Linked DNA regions of Homo sapiens: all the other regions are linked to region 4. The links come from fine-mapping of genetic effects on gene expression. A gene starts in region 4. Each other region holds a variant in brackets. All regions are shown on one strand. Distances are between the middles of the regions. Region 1 overlaps KNDC1 (kinase non-catalytic C-lobe domain containing 1). Region 2 overlaps CFAP46 (cilia and flagella associated protein 46). Region 3 overlaps KNDC1 (kinase non-catalytic C-lobe domain containing 1). Region 4 holds the start of VENTX (VENT homeobox).

The links. PIP is the estimated chance that this variant, and not a neighbour inherited with it, causes the effect. A credible set is the group of variants that fine-mapping cannot tell apart.
Region 1: its variant is the best candidate, but not a certain one, in a credible set for the expression of VENTX in blood mononuclear cells (TOPMed, PIP 0.55).
Region 2: its variant is the best candidate, but not a certain one, in a credible set for the expression of VENTX in whole blood (TOPMed, PIP 0.90).
Region 3: its variant is the best candidate, but not a certain one, in a credible set for the expression of VENTX in whole blood (TOPMed, PIP 0.69).

Annotation. Positions count from the first base shown.
Region 1 is chr10:133,200,606-133,205,746 of GRCh38, reverse strand. KNDC1 (kinase non-catalytic C-lobe domain containing 1) reads right to left here. Exons shown (of 30, transcript NM_152643.8): 17 at 3,849-4,246. LOC105378573 (a long non-coding RNA gene) reads left to right here. Exons shown (of 5, transcript XR_007062351.1): 4 at 3,475-5,141. Among named protein-coding and RNA genes, the nearest start is that of UTF1, 27 kb to the left of the region's middle. RefSeq lists an enhancer at 4,652-5,141. The variant G/A (reference allele first, on the strand shown) is at 2,850.
Region 2 is chr10:132,914,991-132,920,131 of GRCh38, reverse strand. CFAP46 (cilia and flagella associated protein 46) reads left to right here. Exons shown (of 58, transcript NM_001200049.3): 14 at 1-73; 15 at 690-817; 16 at 1,612-1,739; 17 at 3,450-3,583. Among named protein-coding and RNA genes, the nearest start is that of CFAP46, 25 kb to the left of the region's middle. The variant G/C (reference allele first, on the strand shown) is at 3,071.
Region 3 is chr10:133,211,471-133,216,611 of GRCh38, reverse strand. It overlaps KNDC1 (kinase non-catalytic C-lobe domain containing 1), which reads right to left. Exons shown (of 30, transcript NM_152643.8): 22 at 5,043-5,141; 23 at 4,754-4,933; 24 at 3,690-3,896; 25 at 2,885-2,967; 26 at 2,490-2,640. It overlaps LOC105378573 (a long non-coding RNA gene), which reads left to right. Exons shown (of 5, transcript XR_007062351.1): 3 at 287-352. Among named protein-coding and RNA genes, the nearest start is that of UTF1, 16 kb to the left of the region's middle. The variant G/A (reference allele first, on the strand shown) is at 2,290.
Region 4 is chr10:133,235,197-133,240,324 of GRCh38, reverse strand. It overlaps VENTX (VENT homeobox), which reads right to left and starts at 2,470. Exons shown (of 3, transcript NM_014468.4): 1 at 2,170-2,470; 2 at 489-649; 3 at 1-393. The coding sequence starts at 2,410. The coding sequence ends at 19. RefSeq lists enhancers at 1,683-2,286, 2,287-2,891, 2,892-3,495, 4,705-5,128.

The sequences.
Region 1 (5,141 bases), 35 kb after region 4:
TTCTCCCATCTCAGCCTCCCAAAGTGCTGGGATTACAGGCGTGAGCCACTGCACCAGCCTTGCCTTTCTTTTAAACTTAAAGAAGCCCAATGATGCGGATTCCAGCTGGCCTGTGCAGACGAGGCCCCCAAAAACCCTCCTCCCGGGAACCCACTGGCTGGACCATCGTGGTTTGCTGGGCGGCGGCCGCAGCGTTTGCCCCAGCCCTTGGGTGCTCCATAGAGCATGAGCGTTGAGTGTAAATGTGAGTGCACGCCCGGGTGTGATTCTCCGGAACCTGCCCAGAGTCTGAGTTCCTGCCTGCGAGATGGAGCCGGGGACCTCATCCCCAGGGCTGTCGCCATGAGGGAAGCAGGACTGAGGCCAGACGGGCAGGTCCTGATCACAGGAGCTGGGGGCGAGGGCCGCCGGGCACTGCTTCATGCACAGACAGCAGCTGGGGCTGAGCGCCTCCCTGGACGGGACTCTACATTCAGGGAGAGGGCGCCGCGTTGTCCCAGGATGCCTCCCACGCCTGGCCGGGCAGCCCTCGTCTGAGCACTCCTTCTGTCCTACGGGACAGGCACACGGGCGTAGAGGCTGGAGGAGGGGCGCCCTGAGGATGGGCTGCCAGGGCAGTGACCCCAGAGACGGCCCTTCCCTCTAGGGGTACAGGGGCAGATACAGCCTCCTCCTGCACCCGTGGGGCTTGGCCCAGTACTGAGGAGGGTGGTGATTCTGGGGGTGAGGAGGGTGGTGGTTCTGGGGTGAGGGGTCTGGGAAGTCTTGGGGGTCCATGGGAGCTGGGCCTTGAGCAGCAGGTCTTCAGGGGGACTGTGAGGTGCCACGGGGCAGGGGCACCTGGCTGGGGGCAGAGGTGAGAGGCGCGGCAGCCCTCGGCCCGCAGCCTCCTGTGAGGGGTTCACGTGCCCAGGGCCCGAAGCGACCGCCCCGAGGGGCTCATCCGCGAGCCGGTCCACCAGGCTTCCTTTTGTGAAGTGCGGTTGGCTCAGATCCACACAGCCACCCCCTCGCCTTGTCAGCCGCCAGTGACTCTGCTATTGACAGGGTTTATTTTTGAATGTTTTTTGCAAAATAAAAAAATGCAGGCGACATTTCTATTTAACTACTTGAATCCGCTCTATCTGGTGGTTCCATGGAGACGGGGTCCCTGTGCTGTCTTCTCCCACGCACGGGTTCAGCAGCGGCCGTGGCGGTGCCACGGAGGGCCAGGCTCCCCGCTACGGCAGTGTGGGCAGTGTCCCAGCTGCGTAAAGACCAGGCCTCTGCAGAACCTCGGCCACTAAGCCAGGTTCCCCAAGCCCTCCGGACCCCGCTGCCACCCAGCCAAGTGCGACCCTGCCTCCCACACTGAGCTGCAGGCTGCCGTGGCTGCCTAAAGTGCAGTGAAATTAAAACATCAGGTCCTCAGTCACGTGGGCCATGTTTCCAGAGCTCAGTAGCCACACGTGGCTGTTGGCTACCCGGTGGACAGCGTCTAGAACATTCCATCATCAAGGAAGGACCTACCGGGCTGGGCAGGTTGAGGTTGGTAAACGCAGGTGTCCCCATGGAGCTGTGTTCTGCTGCCGGGGCACCTGGTCCTGGCTTCTGAGGATGGTGGTGGCCACGTTCCCCCATGGCCTGCACCATGGGGCCCTCGTCCGGCCCCCGGAGGTCACCGGCGCCAGGCTCCATCCAGCCCTCTCACCCCCATCCATTTGCAGAGGTGCTGATGTCGAGAAAATCTCCTGGGAAAGGTCTGTGTACCCTGACGCATCCAGGAACCTGGAGGCGGGTGCCTGCGAGCCCGATGCCCGCCTGGCTGGAGTGCAGCTCACGCAGACTCCTCTCTGGCCGGCACCTCCACGGCCTCCGTTCACAGTCAGACTCGATGTCCGTCGGGGGCGCTCCTCACGCGGGAACCACAGGCGGACTCCATGAGGAGGACGGTCTTGACTGATTTTAATAAATCCACGGTAACTAAAATCCACACCACATGTGGGGCAGTGAGGAGGGAAACACGAGGCCAGGCTTCACCGGTGCAGACAGACGGGGGAGGAACCCACACCAGTGCTGTCCACGCTGACTCTGGGAGCCACGCTTGTTTTAACAGCAGGAGACGCGGATGCCAGCTCCACAGCCCCAGGGCACCCGCAGTGCTGAGCCCAGCACACACGGCCGGCACCAGTAGGTGGGGGTCAGCGCTGAAGGGAGGAAATGCCCACCGGCTGCTCCAGCCGCCCCAGAGAACGGCCCTCGCTGCACCGTGTGCGTTTTGGGCTGCGGATGTGAAAGTCTGTCTCCAGGTGGTTTTTGCCCTTGCTGTGTTTCTGAGCCTCCTGTTTTGAAAGAGACACAGTAGCTCCTCCAAGAGAAACGTGAGGCTGTGGCCATGGGCCGGACGCTGTGTGTTTGGGGGCCGAGTGCTCCCTGCTGGACACCATGAGTTTGGGGGCCGAGTGCTCCCCGCTGGACGCCGTGAGTTTGGGGGCCGAGTGCTCCCCGCTGGACTCTGTGCGTTTGGGGGCCGAGTGCTCCCCACTGGACGCCGTGCGTTTGGGGGCCGAGTGCTCCCCGCTGGACTCTGTGCGTTTGGGGGCCGAGTGCTCCCCGCTGGACGCCGTGCGTTTGGGGGCCGAGTGCTCCCCGCTGGACGCCGTGCGTTTGGGGGTGGAGTGCTCCCCGCTGGACTCTGCCAGTTTGGGGGCCGAGTGCTCCCCGCTGGACGCCATGCGTTTGGGGGCGGAGTGCTCCCGGCTGGACGCCGTGAGTTTGGGGGCTGAGTGCTCCCTGCTGGACTCCCTGCGTTTGGGGGCCGGGTCGTTTGGTGTTTGCTGTGCCGGCCGCCCTTTTCTCTCCCCAGCCCC[G/A]GGGGCGGCCTTTGCGTCCTCGAAGCCCCCTCAGGCCCTGTGTGGGGTGTCCGAGATGCAGGTGCAGAGGCTGTAGCACCATGCGGGTCTTTCACGTGGCCCAGAAGCTGAAATGAAGTGAAGGCTTCACAGAGCTTAACCCCTGTCCCCTCACCTGCCCTGAAGGGACACCGGGTCATGTTCTGGACTGAGTCATAAAGTGCAGGCCAGGAGGCGGCAGGAGAGGAGCAAGGAGGAGCCCCAGGAAGGGCTCCGATGCCCAGAGGCTGGGGGAGGCTTCCCACGGTGGCTCAGCTCGAGGCAGACGGTGGTAGGAGAGGTTCCCGGAGCTGATGGCCACTGGGCCCCTCCTGTCATCCACCCTGGAGTCCCGGGGCTCTCGAGAATGCAGCCCAGGTCGGGGCTGTGGGTCACTGGTCCCACCTTGCGTCCAGAGCTCTGCAGGCCTCTCCTGCACCCAGGACTCCCCGGTCTAAGACCTCCTCTCCCTGCTGGCCAGGGAGGAGTTGCAGCTGCTCCTGACCCAGGATGGCACTGCTGGCCAGAAAGCCCGGACCAGGCTGCAGCGACCAGGCCCAGTCTAGACTTGCTGGGCAGGCGTTTTTGGTGTTTTCTTTCACTGCAGAGCGAGGCTGCCCAAGGGCCCGGAGGCTGTGCCTGCCCCACGGAAAACACGACCGAACGCAACCTGGTCACGAGCATGGAGGGGCCTCCTGTGAACCCATCGCCCGGGCGACCATGAGAGAAAAGCCCTTCCCTGTCCTCAGACGTGGAGCCACCAGGAGCACCAGTGCAGACGAGCCTGTCCCTAGACGTGGAGCTCAGCCCAGGGAGGGGGCCCTGACCATCTTGACAGCCACGGGGTGGGGGCACCAGGACCAGTGTCACCCTGTTGGGGGCTCTGGGCACACGGTGCCATCTGTCACCTGCAGTGACCAGGAAGCTCTGCTGGAAGGAGACGCCCTGCCCCACCCGGCAGTGCCAAGGCCTGGGACTCACCGGGCTCTGGGCGTCGGGCAGGGCCCCGTCCGCCTGCTGCCGCCCCAGGTCCTTCACGTAGTTGTGGACGTCGGCCCCGAAGCAGTCGGCCTCGTAGAAGGCGCTGCACCAGCCGGGGCTGCAGCTCTGGAATCCGGCTGGGCCGGGGGACAAGGCTGGGCCGACCCCTTTGGACCTGGCCAGTCGGGTCACTGCCTCCACGTCTGAGGCCCCGCCAGCTGGCCGTCTGTCCTCGCCAGCCTCAGGCTGCTGCGCTCTCTCGGCTTTTACGGACCTCTGAGGCCGAAACCCCACCTCGAAGTTTCCCCGTGACAGTGCGTCCGAGTCCACATCCGACACCGAGGTGGGTGAGCAGGGGGCCCTGCTGCTGGTCCTGGCCATGGCTGGCTTCTCTTTTCCTTGAAAGAAAGAGACGCAGGTTACGTGGACAGTGGCTCCTGTGGGCGGAGCCCGGGCAGGCTGTTAATGGGAGGCCGGTGGTGCTTGCACACCCGACGCCCTTCTCTCTTGCACCCGCCCACCACGGGCGCCCCCCGGGCACGGCTGCCGCCTCCCAGTGCAGGGGAGATGCTGGGACCCTGAACTGCCGCACGGGGCCGGGTGACAGAGAGAGGCCTCTCCCCAGATGGAGCCCCACTCTGCGCCCTCACTGCTTCCAAACTCGTACTCGCCCCGGGGTGGGGCCGGGCCCTGTCCTCGCTGGCTCTGCTATCAGGACTGTGTCCCTCTGCCCCCTCACGCTCTCCTCTTTTCTTCTGGAATTTAAAAAGTGGTCCCCAGCTCTGTCCCTGCGGGAGCTTCCCCTGTGCAGGGCTTTCCTGCCATCCAGGAGTGCACGGGCCTCATGCCCCAGCCTGCCCGCCTGGTCTCCGACTTGATAGGAACTGGGCCCGTCACCAAGCCTGGCCACGACTACGGACAGCCTGAGGGTGACCACCACCCCCACCTTGTCCCTAACACCAAGCCTGCTGGCTGGACGCTGGGACGTCCCCAGCCTGGCACTCATGTGCCCTGGGATCCTGGGGCTAACAAGCCCACTTCTGCCTTGTCACCAAAGCCCCGGCTCACAGGCCCCCCTCTGCTTGGAGAGCGGATCCCACCTGGCTCCCGGCGGCTCCCACTGTCCCAGTGGCCGGTGACAGAGGACCCCCCACCTCCAAGGTCCTGGGCTCCTGCTCGCCCCCAGAAGAGGACGGCCTTTGGCTGGGCACCCCCAGGAGAGGACGGCCTTTGGCTGGGCACCCCCAGGAGAGGGCGGCCTTTGGCTGGGCACCCCCAGGAGAGGGCGGCCTT
Region 2 (5,141 bases), 320 kb after region 4:
GGCACCACACCGTCAGCGTGGACAAAGCTGCCGGGCACCTGCGGCGCCTGGGCAACGAAAACGACAAGGAGAGGTGAGTGAGGAAAAGGCCAGAGCGCCACGCACAGCTCAGCCCGGGGGTCGCTCAGCCCGAGGGCCAGTGTCTGTGGCGGCTGAGCTGACCCTGCATGTGGCCGTCTGGGGACTCGCCAGGCCACCTGCTCCAGGATGGTGGGACGAGGTCCCTGCCTGGGAGTCCCGCCACAGACGGGACCCCCCAGCCTGTGATGACAGCCACGGCCTATGAGGTGTGCGGCTGCCCTGTCCCGCCTGTCACTGCTGTCACTCGGAGGACACGCAGCGCCTGTGACCAGAGCAGGCTGATTTTTGGTACCGACCCTGCGGTCGGTACCATCCCCGGGAGGCCTGTCCCGTGCACTCCCCCGGGGAGTGGATTGTGTGGCCTTTCTTCTCACCACAGGGAAGGGAGGTGCCGCGCACAGCTGGCTGGCAGGGAGAGCGGAGAGCTGCGCCCGACCCTGGGACATGCACCCGCCAGGCCGTACCCAGCGCGAGTGCCGGGCTCCTTGCCACCTTGAAACTGCAGAGCCACAGTGGCCTTTTCTCAGGCAGCCAGCCCAGGTGTTTTCTAACTTCAGCAACCACACTTGTCTACTCACCTTTCACTCGTTTGGGTTCTCGGTGAGCAGGATACAGATTTGGGCAGAGCTGGCCAAAGTGGCCCGGAAACAAGGCGTGTGGGACGTCTGTCGGACGGCGAGCCGCTTCTGCCTCCTGTATGACAACGTCAAGGTGAAGAAGTTGAGGCTGCGGCGAGGTTCGTACCCGCCCTCACGAGTGTGTCCCAGCCTGGCCACGGCCGCCCTCTGGGTGTGGGAAGGGTTGTGGTTCGTGCAATGACAACCCATGGGGCCTTCGCATGAGAAAGCGTATTGCTAAGTCACAATGGTAGCAGTTCCCACTAATTATCAGGACCGCCAATCATGGGGCGGCGGCCACATCTGGCTGTGTCGGCCGAGCCACGAGCACCGTCGTCACACTCCATCTTCAGTCACTGGGGGCCTCGGAGGCTCAGGCAGGGGCCACCACAGCCAGTGAGCAGATGCCCATGCGGGGCACCTGCAGGCAGAGGGCAGTGGCCACAGGCCCAGCGTGGAGCGGGACATGGGTGGGGCAGGCTCATCAATCAGCACCCGGCCCTGGAGAGGCTCCTGTCTCAGGGACAATCAGGACCCGGAGGGACGAGGGAGGTGACAGAACGGGCACAGGGGGTCTGGGAGTCCTGCAGGAGTCAGGGAGGGCACCCCCCAAGAAGGCAGGGGATGCAGGAGGAGTTGGGAGAGCCACAGGTGCCAAGAGCATCTGCAGGGATGTGGCCAAGAGCAAGCCCTGGCTGGGAGCCAGCACTCCACCCACCTCCGCCATCCCACGGAGAGCTCCTCCAGCCTCTTCCTGGGCAAGCTGCCCACCTCCCGCCTACCCGCCCACCTTGGCGGACCCTACACGGAGCTGGGGAGAGGCTCAGGCACTCCAAGATGGTTCAGGAATTCTTGTGTTTTTATTTATTTGCTAGAAAAAAACATGATCCTTACCTGCTGCCATTTCTCTCAGGGAAGAAGAAGCGAGGTAGGGACGGCTCGGTGCAGGACACCTGGAGCCAGCCTGAGGTCGTCCTGCAGAGGCAGGTGTGCCCCGACCTGCTGCGGAAGTTCGCGGAGGTGGGGTTCATCCATGCTGAGGTGCGTCATGGAGAGGGGGGTTCATCGGTGCTGAGGTGCGTCGTGGAGAGGGGGGTTCATCGGTGCTGAGGTGCGTCGTGGAGAGGGGCGTTCATCGGTGCTGAGGTGCGTCGTGGAGAGGGGGGTTCATCGGTGCTGAGGTGCGTCGTGGAGAGGGGGGTTCATCGGTGCTGAGGTGCGTCGTGGAGAGGGGGGTTCATCGGTGCTGAGGTGCGTCGTGGAGAGGGGGGTTCATCGGTGCTGAGGTGCGTCGTGGAGAGGGGGGTTCATCGGTGCTGAGGTGCGTCGTGGAGAGGGGGGTTCATCGGTGCTGAGGTGCGTCGTGGAGAGGGGGGTTCATCGGTGCTGAGGTGCGTCGTGGAGAGGGGGGTTCATCGGTGCTGAGGTGCGTCGTGGAGAGGGGGGTTCATCGGTGCTGAGGTGCGTCGTGGAGAGGGGGGTTCATCGGTGCTGAGGTGCGTCGTGGAGAGGGGGGTTCATCGGTGCTGAGGTGCATCCTGGAACTGGGGCTTATCAATGCTGAGGTGTGTCCCTGCACCACAGCGTCAGAGGGTTGCTTTCCTGCATCCACACAACCTGCTGTGGGGCAGGTGTTGGTGTCCACGTGGCCTGTTAACCCACTGCAGATATTTATTGTCATAGAACCTTCTGTGCTTCAAACAAAATGAATATGAGGGAGGGAAAACTTCCTGGATTCTTGGGAGATTTTCTAGGAGAAAAATATAAACCAAAGTGTGCATGGGTGTAAATTTCTCTTGGGAATCATTTCTGAGTGGTGAATCTGCAGTTGTGTGGATGACACACGGCAACCGCCACTCGGTGGGGAGATGGTACCTCGGCATTTGCTGCAGAAGCGCATTGAATGTGGCGTGATGTCCAGGGTCCCTGTGATGGGGCCGCCAGGCCTGTTCCTCCCACGCAGGCTCAGAGACTCCCGGGCTCGCCCTGCCCAAAGTCAGCAGGTAGAAATGGCGGAGTGGGATCCAAACCCAGCCCTGGGACCTCGGGTCCGAGCTCGCAGCCACCGCGCTGCACCAACACAAGTGTGGCCCTTGTGACATTGTGTGACTTCAGAGTTCCCAGAGCCACTCTCGGTTAGGTTTCTGTGGACTTTCTCAGTGGGTGCGTGGCCATCAGCCCTGGAGGACAGGGCACCTGCCGATTTAGGCAGTATGTCTGCTGAGTGGCTCCCAGGTGCCAGGCCCATGCCCTCAGCTGGGGTCAGGGTGAGAAGCGGCACAGAACTCTCTGCTCAGGGAGCCGGAGGCCACATGGCAGAACCAGAGCCAGCGGCGGCCACGGGGCTGTGCCACATGGTCATCCACGCCCCG[G/C]AGGCCAGCGCAGACCTTTCCCCTCAAACATTTAAAACGTAATGATTACGTAGGGGAGGTGCAAATGCTGGCCGGTGTCTGCTGATACCGGGAAGCCACTGTTGGTCCTTCGGGGCTGCTGGGGTGTGCGGTGCTCTGGAAGGACCTTCTCTTCCCTGACCCTTGTGCTAATGGGTGGAGAGAGTCTGTGAGGAGCTGGCTTTAGTCCCTGGAGTGGCTATTGGGGCAGGCCCAGCTTGCAAAGGGCACAGCAAACGGGTCTCACAGCCTGTGCTTGGCATTTTCAAATCAGAGCTGAGGGAAGGGCGTGTGTGTTTCCTATCTGGTGCTGGGCCCGTGCTCCGCCCATGACCCCTCCCACCGCATGTGTGTTTTGCAGGCCACGGTTCATTTGCTGCGGTCAGAAGGTGTAGAGCTGAATGACCGGGCCATCCCCCCCGAAGACCTGAGCCAGCACCCAGCTGGCTACGTGCCTGAGCCCCCGGAGGTGAATGCTGAGTGGATCACATACAGGTGGGCAGAGGCGACAGTGGCCTTGAGCACCGCCCGGGGCCGTGGGTCAGAGTGTCCCCTGCACTCAGGCTGGCGTGGGGAGGGACACCCTTTGCATTCGTAAGGACACCGGCTTCTTGCGTGGGGGACGTGTCCATCGTCACGTAAATGACTGAGACCATGAAAGAGAAAATGGGGTGACGTGGCCTCTCCTGTTTTTAGCCGTCGTTCCTCGCAAGACCCCAGGCGTAGTTTGCTGTTACTACGAGGAAACGTTCAGGAGTGTCTTTTCCAGCGTCCTGTAGTGTCCCTCTTGCTCACCCTCGTCAGGCCCTCTGATGATGCGTGAAAGGCAGCTGCTAGGGAGGTGGTCTTCGTGGCAGAAAATAGAAGGAGCAGCTTCTGTATTTGCTCAGAGGAAAAGCTGTGCTCTCCCTCCTATTGTGGGAAAAGCTATCGAGGACTGCCTTGGCCTCGAAAACGCCTTGTGTGTCAATAAGAAAATTTAGTTTGTACAGAACATCTCACAGGATTTGCTGACGTGAGGTTCCAAGTTCAGAAAGAATTGAAATTGGAGTGCTTGTACCAGCAATGATGGTTTTTACCTATTTTTAATATAAAATTAAATATTTTTAACTTATTTTTTTAATTGACAAGAATTTTACCGTTTTTGGGGTGCATAGTGACGTTTTGATCTGTGTAACGTGGTGATCAGATCTGGGTAATCAGCGAATCCGTCACGCTGGACGTGCGTTGTTTCTCCATGTTGGGAATGTTCGATGTCCCCCTTCCAGCATCCCTGTAAACTATAGTCGCTCGCCGTGCATAGGACACGGGAACTTATCCCTGCAATGCAGCTGCGTCAAGCACACGAACGTGGTAAGCTCGGGTGTCCCCGACTATCCATGCATCAGAAGCTGGGCACGGCACCCCGCCCTCGCCGGTCCCTCGGGGCAGAAGCTGGGCACGGCGCCCCGCCCTCACCGGTCCCTCGGGGCAGAAGCTGGGCACGGCGCCCCGCCCTCGCCGGTCCCTTGGGGCAGAAGGAAAGCCAGCTGTCCCTGCTTGCCATGCACGCCTGGAGCCACCCGGCCGAGCTCTTTGGAGGGAAGAGGTGGTCAGGCAGCAGCAATGACGATGACGGCTGCAGGTGGCCTTTGTCTTGGCCTCTTGGGATCCCTCTCCTGCAGCAGCTCCGGGCTCTGTGAGGAGCCACCGGGCCCAGGCCCACCCCGGGCCTCCAGCCCTCACAGCCCCGTCATTTCAGGCAGGGGCTCCAGATGCCTTTCCAGGACCCAGGCCCAAGGCTGGGCAGAGCTCTGCACTCCTGGTGGGCCTGCTCACAGACAGAGGAGGGTCTGAAAATTAGGGCTCAAGCCGTTTGCAGCCTGTGAGCTGAGAGTGGCTTTGACACTTTTAAATTTGTAAAACAAAATAGAAAAAATATACAGTGAAGACTATATGGAGCTTGCAAAGCTCAAAATGCTATTTGGCCCCTTATAGAAAAAGTTTGCCCAGCCTGGTCTAGCGGGACGGACAGACCCTGTCCACGTCCACACGGCTGAGTGAGGGCTGACTG
Region 3 (5,141 bases), 24 kb after region 4:
GCCACCTCCTGGGCTCCAGTGATCCTCCCGCCTCAGCCTCCTGAGGAGCTGGGACTCCAGGTGTGCGCCACCAGCCTGGACAATTTTTTATATTTTCAGTAGAGACGGGGTTTCGATATGTTGTCCAAGCTGATCCCAACTCCTGGTCTCAAGTGATCTGCCCTCCTCGGCCTCCCAAAGGGCTGGGGTTACAGGCATCAGCCACTGCGACCGGCCTGCGTTTTCTTAAGGTGAGAAATTTTACGCTGTTTCTTCCTGCTTCTGTTTCCACCTTGTCTCCCTCCAGACGTCGTCTAAACGGTGCCACCAAGACATTGTCTGAACGGAACCACCGACCCCCCATTTTCTTCAGGTGAGAAATTTTATGCCGTTTCTTCCTGCCCTTGTGTCTCCACCTCGCCTCACTCCAGGCATCGTCAGAACGGAGCCACTGACCCCCGAGCATTTTTATTGATCACTGCTGCCCTCTGTGCTCGAATTTTGTATTTTAATGATTTTCTGGGGTCCTGAATTTACAAATGTGAAACTCAGTGTCCTGGATTGTTCCGACCTCACAGCCATTGAGACACAATACGTCAGGACATCGTGGCTCTAACACTTGTTAGATGGACGAGCGTGGTGCTTTTAGAAGTGGGTCTCCGGCGAGGTCCGTCCGCTCCCGTGAGGAGGTGAGGGGCCTGTTCTGAGCGATCCGCAGCTCCCTTTTGCTAACGGGGATGTGGCAGCAGTGCCGAGCTCTGTCCCGGCCACGCTGGGTGCCAGCAGCCCTGGGTGTGAGCCTGCACGACTCTTGCCCACCCTGCAGACCTGTACACGGGTGCGTGACCAGGACGAGCGGCCATCCCGGAGACCCTCAGGCAGGGCCGCCGCAGGCTCGAGGTGGGTCTCAGGCTGGGAGGGGCAGTCCTCCACCCGCTGGGGCAGCTCGGGGTGAGGGTGCGCCCAGGACGATGTGGGTTGGCCAGGTGACAGCCACCTGTCCTTGTGCTCATCCTCATGAAGCCTGGCCACACGGGCCGTGCGTGAAGGCTCTGGTTTAGGGAAATCGCATTTTCATGTCCCTCACGATATGGTGAAAACCATGGATCTGAGGAAAGAGGCAACCAGGCTCCCTGTTCCCACGCCCCGTGCTGGCGTGCCCTGGCGACAAATCCCCAAAGTTGGAAAGTTCTCCCCAAGGGAGGAGAGAAGGCGGTGCCTCTGCCTTCGTTTACGGCCCGGGGTTGCCTGCGGGCTTGGAGGGGTGTGAAGGAATAATAGGAAGGGAAGCTCTGTCCACCGTGGAGGTGGCTTTGCCGCCTGGCAGGGAGGTACTGCACCTTGGTGGACTGCGAGCAGCTCCTGGTTCCCCCAGAGCCTTCAGCCCACTCTGGGACAGCAGCAGGGACGGCAGTGATGGGGTTCGTGGCCGGGAGTCCTGTTCCTTGGGCTCAAGTTTGCTTTCAGAGAGCTCCGGCCCAGGAGGGGGTGGGCGTCTACCTGCCTGCTGTGGGGGAAGGGGCCCTGTAATCCTGAGTCTTACTTGGAGCGGGACCTGGTGACCCCAGCCCACGACAGCCAAGCGCCAGCTGAGCTCAGGTGTGAGGAGATCACAGTCCTCTGTAATAGGCTGTCCGTCTGCTGGGTGAAGGCATCCGCTGGGTGAAGGTGCAGACCCCTGGGGCTGGGGGACTCTGGCCTCCTGAGAAGCTGTGGACCCTGATGCCTCCTGGGCAGGTAAGCCCCGTGAAGGATGAGCTGGTCGAGGCAGTGACTCTCTAGGGGCTGCACAGTGCCCTGCCTGACAGCAGGTGGGGCAGGTCAGGGGAGGAGCCCCCAGTCCAGCCCAAGCCCCACAGGACCTAGAAGAGGCTGAGACTGGGCCCCGGCGCTGGAGCTTGACCTTGACCTTGGTCAGACCACGGAGCCGATCCGTTCCACAGACTAAGAACCCACAATGAGCATTCGGCCAGGAGGAGCCCAGGGTGGGACGCTGGGCATCACAAGCCCCAGCCCAGGGGCCAGGCTCAGGCACAGAGGGGATGGGGCCTGGGGTGGAGTGGGGTGTGTGGCGGAGCCCAGTGCTGGGGGTGGTGCGTGAGGGACTCTGTGTGTGGTGAGCACAGGTGGGGGTGGTAGCAGTGGTGGGTGCAGCTTGTCCTGGGTCTCCAGGCGGCCCACAGCCAAGGATCACCCACCACTGAGGGGAGCCATCTCTGGCTGCAGATGTGGACGTGGCTGTGGAAGTGGCCGTGGATGTGGATGTGGCCGTGGATGTGGCAGGCAGTGCTGGGGGAGAGCTGGGAGGGC[G/A]GCTGACCCCCCTCCTCCTGATGTAGTGAAGCCTGTGCCCTGCTCCCCTCAGCCTTGGGTCGGGTGTGGTTCCAAGGGACACAGAGTTGGGTTCACTGCATTGGGAGAGGGTTCAGGCCACGGCCTTATAGGAGGCGCTGCCACCCCCGCGTAGGTGGGCCCCACGCCCCGTGTTGGCCTCGGAACTGTAGGGTGCCCACCTTGGAGGTGTGGCTGGTCACAATCTCTGCAGCCACCCAGGTGCTGACGTCATCTGCGTTTCTTAGAAGCTGTAACAGATACTTGTCCTGAACGTAATTGGGCAGAAATAAGCTGCAGGTTTTGGCCGAAAGAGACTCAGAAGAGCTGGCTCTGGAAGAGAAATATGGTCCCTGTCACCCCCAGGACTTGTGCAGTGGCCCTGCCCGGCCCTGGGGCTGCTGGTGCAGGGTGGGCTGGGGTCGGGCCACGAGGCCGCTCCAACTGGCAGACACCACTCTCTCGCGTCTCTGGAGACACAGGCATCTCCTGCTGGTCAGGAGCGTCCACAAGACTCTTACGGGAAGCCCCCGAGACCCTCCACCACCGCTCCCAGCTGAGGGTCCCGGACGCTCACTTGGGGATGGCAGTGCTCTTGTCCATGACGCCCAGGGCCCGTGAGTTCAGGAAGTGGACCGGGTGGCACTTTTGAAACAACTCCTGCCCAGAACATGGAAACAAGAGGTTCAGGCTTCCATCCCTTAGGGCCTTGTGTCCAAGGCAGGGTCCCAGGGAGGGTGGGTGTTTTCTGGGGGGCCAGCTCTGCAATCCCAGGTTCAATACCCATCTAACAGTCCACAGGGGTCGGCTGCAGGGCTCCCCATGTGCTTGGCCCCCAGGGGCTCATGGTGTCCGGGGCAGCCCTCGTGACAGCAGGTGGATCACTAGATTGGCATCACTGCTGTCACCTGCTACATGATGTGGGCTCCCGGGATGGCAGGGACCTGGGAAGAGGCCACCTGAGGGCTGGCTGTGGTGGCGGCAGAGGAAGTTGGGCAGGGCCCTGGCAGCTGGGTGGGGGCACAAGGAACCGGGTTGGCCCAGCTCCGGTGGAGGGGCTGGGGGGAGAGACTCAGCGCCCCATGCGGCCCTCAGGGCATCCTCTAGTGCCTGTGAGGCCAGAGTGCTGGGCAGAGGCAGGGCCAGGCCCAGCGGGCAGTGGTCTGGAGAGGAGGACTCAGCTTTGCTGGGGCCTCCCATTGAGGCAGCAGCCGCCTGGACCTGTGCACCTGGCAGCCACCCCCAACCTGTGCACCTGGCAGCTGGCCCCTTCTCTGCCCGTCTGTTCCTCTGGAAGCAGCCGCTGAGGGCCCTATGGGCGCGGAGTGTTTCTGGGGCCCCGACTCGCAGGTGACCTGGGCGCAGATCCTCGCCCTCCTCACCTGCTGTAGCAGCGTGAGCTGGCTGAAGAGCTGGTGAGTGCTGTACTCCGTCAGGAAGTAGGGCCCCTTCTCACTGGTCTTGGCGCAGGGGCCGTAGAAGTCCTCGAGGAAGCAGGGCTTGGGCAGGGCGGCAGCAATGGTGTAGGGGCGCTCCTTGTGTGGCGGCAGCACCAGCCCGTTGCCTCGGGGCAGCCTCCAGGGGAAGCTCTGCAGGGCAGGCCGGGCACTGAGGGGCCTAAGCTCCGTGTCCCCTCTGGGTCAGGGGTCCAGGGAGGCAGGGTTGGGGGGTGAGGACCAGGCCAGGTGCAAGCCCAGTACTCCTCAGACTGGCCCAGCCAGAGCCAGAGAGCAGCCTGCCCACCCGCAGCTGTGCTGGCACAAGGATGCCTGTCCTGGTCGTTTCAGCAGGTGCCCCACGGGCAGGACGCTGAGGTTTAATGGAGAGGGCATTTCTCTCCCCACACTGGCTTCTGCCTTAGTCTCTGGCCCGTGGGTCAATGAGTCACAGCAGGACCCTCCTCCCCTGAGCACCCGGGATGGTGCAGGAGGTGCCAGCGCAGCAGGGCTGCCTGGGACCGGGAACATGGAGGGGGTATGTGAGTGTGCACGTGTGGATGTGAGGGTGCATGCGTGTGTGTGTGGATGCGTGTGCGGGTGCACGTGTGTGCATGTGTGGATTGCGTGAGGGTGCACACGTGTAGGTGTGGATATGTGTGAGGGTGCACACGTGTAGGTGTGGATATGTGTGAGGGTGCACACGAGTGCATGTATGGCTGTGTGAAGGTGCACGTGCGTGTGCACGTGTGGATTGAGTGTGCACGCATGTGCACGTGTGGATTGTGTGAAGGTGCATGCATATGTGCACGTGTGGATGTGTGTGATGTGCACAGGTATGTATGTGCACACAAGTGTATGTGCACACGTCTATGTGTATGCATGTATACAGCTGTGCCCATTTGCACTTGTGTGTATGTGTGTGCATGCACCAGTTGTGTCTTTGAGGCTGGGCTCAGGGACCCACATCCGCCTGTCCAGGGAGGACCTCCCCTGAGAAAGGACCCCACCTTCCTGGAGATGCCGTCCTCTGAGAGCCTCTTACAGAGGGCGTTGAAGGGTCTGGCATCCTCCTCGGCCTCCCTGGGGTTCTCCAGGTCTGTGCCGCGAGGGTTGCCCTCGGCCCGCCGGTCCATGCCCACCTCCAGGAGGCCCAGCAGGTGCTTGGCAGAGCCGTCCAGGGGTAGGATCTAGGCAGAAGCACAGTGGTGGGGGGGTCACTGCCACCTTCTGGAGGAGGGCGGCACCTCCCACTGTGGGAGCCCCGGGTGCGGCCGCCCAGCTCAGCGCCACTGTCACCTTGGAGGAGATGAAGTCCTCTAGCTTCCCCAGCAGCCCGCTGTTCCGAGGGAAGTCCACAGCGTAGCAGTCCTCCACCCAGGCCTGCAGGACGCAGAG
Region 4 (5,128 bases):
GGAGTCAGAGGTGCCTCCTCAAAATGCATCCCCCGTCTGTGGCATAGCACACAGGCCCCGGGGCCCCGTGGACAGGGCTGGTCCCAGCGAAGGCCGGCCTGGGGTAGGGGGGTGGGACGCCAGAGGCTGCCCGCAGCAGGAAGCTCCCGCAGATGCCAGGGCCTCTTGTGCCACTTGGCAGAGACCCCAGAAGGAGCCAGGGGGCAGCATCAGAGCCTGGGGCCCGGACAGGGGTGCCCAAGGGCACAGCAGCTGCAGGCCATTGGCAAGGCCAGAAGACGTTGAGTAGAAAGCTGGGGGCGCATGGAGAGACCCCGAGAAGGGGCTGTGCAGCTGGGGGTCCTGCATTTGCCGTTTGTGTTTCATGCGGCGATTCTGAAACCAGGTTTTTATCTGTAGGAAAAGCAAGATCAGAACAGGGGTGAGACTAGGCCACCAGCCCACCCTTGCCCACCCCTGCCCACCCCAGCCTGCCCGGCCCACCTCACCTGGACCTCTGAGAGCTGCATCTCCCTGGCCAGCCTCTTCCGCTCCAGAGGGCTCAGGTACTGGTGGTGCTGGAAGACGCCCTCCAAGGTGCGGACCTGCTCCATGGTGAAGGCTGTGCGGACACGGGGGGCCCGCAAGGTATTTGGCTCCTTACTCAACCCTGACATAGAGGGTAAGGGCATTTGGCTCAACATGCCACCCCATGGGGCAAGCTCGTGCCCACGGGTAACAGGTGAAGACAGCCATGCTGGGGGCTGGGCAGGGCAGATCTTCTCACCTGACAGTGACCAGCAGCACCCCCGCCGCCTCCCAGGTCACATGCGGAAAGGGGGCTCAGAGAGGGGGCTCAAGAGGGGAGGGAATGTTAACAGCAGCTTGGGCCTGCCCTCCGCTCAGTCCACTCAGTTCCGCCCCATCCCACACTTCCCTTCCAGAAGCCGGTTCCCAGGATGCCCTTCCCACAGCCTTCCAGGCCGGTAAGGTAAGAATCCATTATATGCAAAGGCCTGGCGACCCACCCAGGGGCACCCATCCCTGTCCCGGGCTCCGTCTCCTCAGCCAGCGGAGGCCAACTCAGTTAATCCCCAGGCCCACTGTGGTCAAGTCTGTTTCCTAATTTCTAAGTTAAGGAATGGGGGCTGGCACCAAACGGCCCCACGAGGTGGTCTGTGGAGCTGGGTCTGGGTCCCAGGAAAGGCCAACGTGGCCAATCGAGCTCGACATTAAATGCAAGTCTGACCAAAATGCTCGCTGGAGTTTCTGCGGAAGGAAGCGTATTTTACAAAATCTGTCTTAACGTTAGCCTGAAAGCACATGGTAGACCCAAAAAGCAAATGCCTTCTGGCAGGGAGGGCTGTAGGACTGGCATCAGAAAGGGGGTTGCGGGACAGGGATGGCTGGCTTTTTTGGGGTGGGGCAGGATAGCTAGCTGGGGAGAATACATTTAAATTTTCATTTCCCTTAAGTACAAAGTCACTCCATAAGGATCAGTCAAATTTTTAAAAATGAAAACTTGTAGATGATGTCAACCCCACTTTTGACCAAGTACTACCTTAAACCTAAAAGTGGTGATGATGTCACAAAGACTAAAACACAAACGCAGAGAACCTTTGTTCTCAGCAGACAACAGAGCATCTGGGCGGCCACAGAGGGAACTTCAGAGTTTCTGCAGGCATCGGGGTCACCGCCACCCCTGCAGCGAACCTGCAGGCTCTTTAAAGACAGCTGTGCTCCAGGTGACCCGGAATGGGCTTGAGCCTAGACGCTGAGCAGGCACCGGCTGTGCTGGGGGGCGGGGGCGGGGGGCTTGGCAAATCATCGAGACTTTCAGTGAGCGCCCGGAATCAGGGCAGGGAGGTGCGGACGGGGACCCCTTGGACGGTCCCTCGGCACCAGGCCGGGGTGGGGGACGAAGACACAGCTGAGGAACGGGGTGACAAAAGGAGGCAGAGGAGCCCACCGGGGGCTCAAGGAGAGGAAATCCCCGTCAAGGCTTTGGTTCCGAGGGAAGCTGCGCTCCAGTGAGGGCGCCGGCAAGGCCTCCGCCGGCCCTCATGGAAACGCCCCCGGCCCTGACCTAGTGGGCAGGGCACCGCGGGGAGTGCAGCCGCCGGGCTCCTGGCCTCTCCCCCACTCCCATCTCCACCTGGGAAGGAAGGGACCCCCCCCACCCGGACCTACCGGCCATGGTCCTCTCCGGCGCAGGCAGATTTGAGGACCCGGCGGCCTCCTTGATGCTGACGGCCTGAGGGGGCTCCCGGGCGCCGGATGTCTGGCCTGGGCCAGGGAGGCTCCCCAGGGAGAAGTCGGCAGGCCTGGGGGTGTGGGTCGGCCCTGAGCAGCTGCTCTGGGAGAGCCAGTCCACGGAGCCAAAGCTGGAGAGCTGCTGCGGGCCACGAGGTGGGGAGGAGGAGAGGCGCATGGCGGCCAGGTGGGCCGGAGGGAAGGCCAGGCGGGGCTGGCCAGGCGCAGGATCCACCTCGGGCCTCGCCAGGCGGCGGCGTTTATAAGCCCAGGAGGAGGGGGCGGGAGCCCGGTTTGCATACACGGCTAATGCCCAGATAAGCAGCGCCTAATTGCCTTCGATTCAGAGGCACAAAGGAGGCCGTTCACACCTCCCCGGCTCCTCGATGTCTGGGGGAGGGGCGGGGCTGCGGGCCCTGGTTAATGGAGAGGCGATGGTTCGGGATCGGTCACCTCCTTTCATCTCTCCCAACCCCCCACCCCGCGGGCCGAGGCTGCAGGAAGGTAGGAGGGTCCCACTCCCACTTGGGCCTGTCCTGGGAGGTGCCGGGCGACCTCTCCTCTCCAGGGGGACGCTGGCGCCTGTGCCCAGCCCGGACACCCGAGGGCGAGCAGGCTTCAGGCTGGGAGAGTCAGGGCGGACTTAGGTTGGGAGCAGGCTTCGGGGTGGGAGAGTCAGGCCGGTGCCCGCGTGCGCTGCGTCCAGGCTGTGCGGCCGCGCAGGAACCGAGGGAGGCTTTCCCGGGAAAGAGACGCGGAGGACCCGGGGAGCGGCGCGCGGGGGCGGGAATGTCGGGAGGGGCCTCTCGGGGGACTCGGCCGCCTCCAGCCCTAATCCGGCTCCTCTGGGGGACTCACTCCGGGGCCATCGCAGGAGCCTCTGCATTCGGGCGCGGGCGGCTCCCTGACTCCATCCCGAGCTGGAAGGGCCGGAGCCACTGCCTCGCACGGCGGGGTAGGAACTCCGCGTCGGCGGCGGGACTGGTGCGTCCCCGCCAAGCCAGGCTGTCCCCACTGTGGCCAGGGCGCGGGCAGAGCCGCCGGTGACTGTGGCGCCCAAACCTCACGGGGACGCCCTGAGCACGGGCCCCCGGGACGGTCATAGCCACGCGCGGCCGCTGCTCCCACGAACCTGAGTCCCGAGCTGTCTGCGTCTCCGCGTCCCCGGGTCGCCTGCGCGTCGGCGTGGGGCGCGGGGACCGACGTGACCGGGTGGGAGGCAGCCATGCCGAGGGTAGGACGGTGTCTTCCGCGCACTGGCTTGGGGTCCGCACGGCGTCTCCGGCGGCCGGAGTTAGGCGGAGGCGCAGGTCCGGCCCCCGAAGCCATGCGGGGTTTCGGCGCAGACGCGGGGTCCACGGAGCAGCCCCGACTCCCGGCCAGGTCCTGACCGCGGCTGCCTCAGCGCCCACGCCGCCCGCGGAAATCAGAAAGACCGGCGGGCCTCGCCCCACGGTTACGCCCGCCCCAGCCAGCCGAGCCTCCCGGGCTGAGCAAAGAGGTTGGAGCCCGGGAGGCGGGCGCTGGGGCGGGACCTCAGCCGGGAACCGATCGGCGGCCTACCTGGGGTCACAGGAGAGGGGTCGCGGAACGGACCGTGCCGCCGCTGACCCTGGTCTTCCTCGGACCCTGCCGGCCCAGTTAGGTCACTGGGCCCTCAAGGGGGAGGCTGGCGGGGGTGGGGCGCTGGGGGCTTTGGACGTGGCCTCGGGGGTAAAGCCAGGAGGGGTGGGGGGCCAGGAAGCCGGCCTAGACCCCCGCTGCACTTCATCTCCGGAGAGACCGGGTCACCCCCGGTAGAGGGGCTTTGAGCCACTGCACAGGACCGGCAGTGTGTCCCGGCCAGGGGCAGCGAGGGCCCAGATGCCTGTGGCCACAGGGCTGGCCCCGAGGATGCCCCATGGGGCAGGTCCCCAGCACTCCCGCAGTGGGGGCGGTGCCTCAAAGTGGAGCAAGACAGCACACCTCACACATCCCGCAAAAACATACAGAACGTTCGACAGGCAGGGAAAAGGCCCAGAAGCTTCCCTTACATAAAGAGGAACACCACGAGCATGCATTTCCGAAACGCCAGCACCCAGCCTTCCATTTCTCCATTTCTAATTTCCGGGGCCCAGGGCCCCGGTGTCTCAGCCCCCTTCTGTACGTGGTTCAGCACCCCCACCCCCAGCTCTACATAGAGCCCCTCCTGCCGGTTTCCCAGCCCCCCGCCACCACCTCCACCTGAACCGCCCCCTCCGATCCCCCCAAGCCCGAAGACAACCTCACCTTCACACGGCAGGGTCAGGCAGCCCCTCTCTCCTGCCCAGCGGCCCCACCACCGTGGCTCAGGCCTCCCCGCCTCCTGCAGCCCGGGCCCCTCCCTCCACCCTCCCTCTAGAGCCCGCCGAGGCTGCTCTAGCCCAGGCTTGGGGGTCCCCAAAGCCTCCGCCTCCAAGCCTCCGTCCACCCCCGGCTCTGGGACGCGCCCTGATGCGCTGCCATGGGTAGGAGACTTGGGCGCCCCCCTGCCTCCTTCCTCCCAGCCCCTGGGGCAGCCCAGCCCCGTGAATTGCGCCCCGCACGCCCCAGAGCGTGGTCCCCGCGGGCGTCGCCCTGTCCCCCACCCTCGGGGGCCAGGCCGGGTTGCGCTGGGCAGGAAGTCCCGCGTCACTCCCAGGCCGACAGCACCGCCCCCACGCACAGCCCGGAGTCCAGCTAGTCCCCGAAACGCGCTCCCCCCGAGTCCAGGGCCTGAGGACAGACACCGGGCCCAGCGCGTGCTGCCGGCCCCGTCGCGACTCGCCCGAGCCTCCTCCGAGCACTCTGGGACCACCTGAGGGGGAGGCCAGCTACTCAGGAGGCTGAGGCAGGAGAATCTCTTGAACCTGGGAGATGGAGGTTGCAGTGAGCCGAG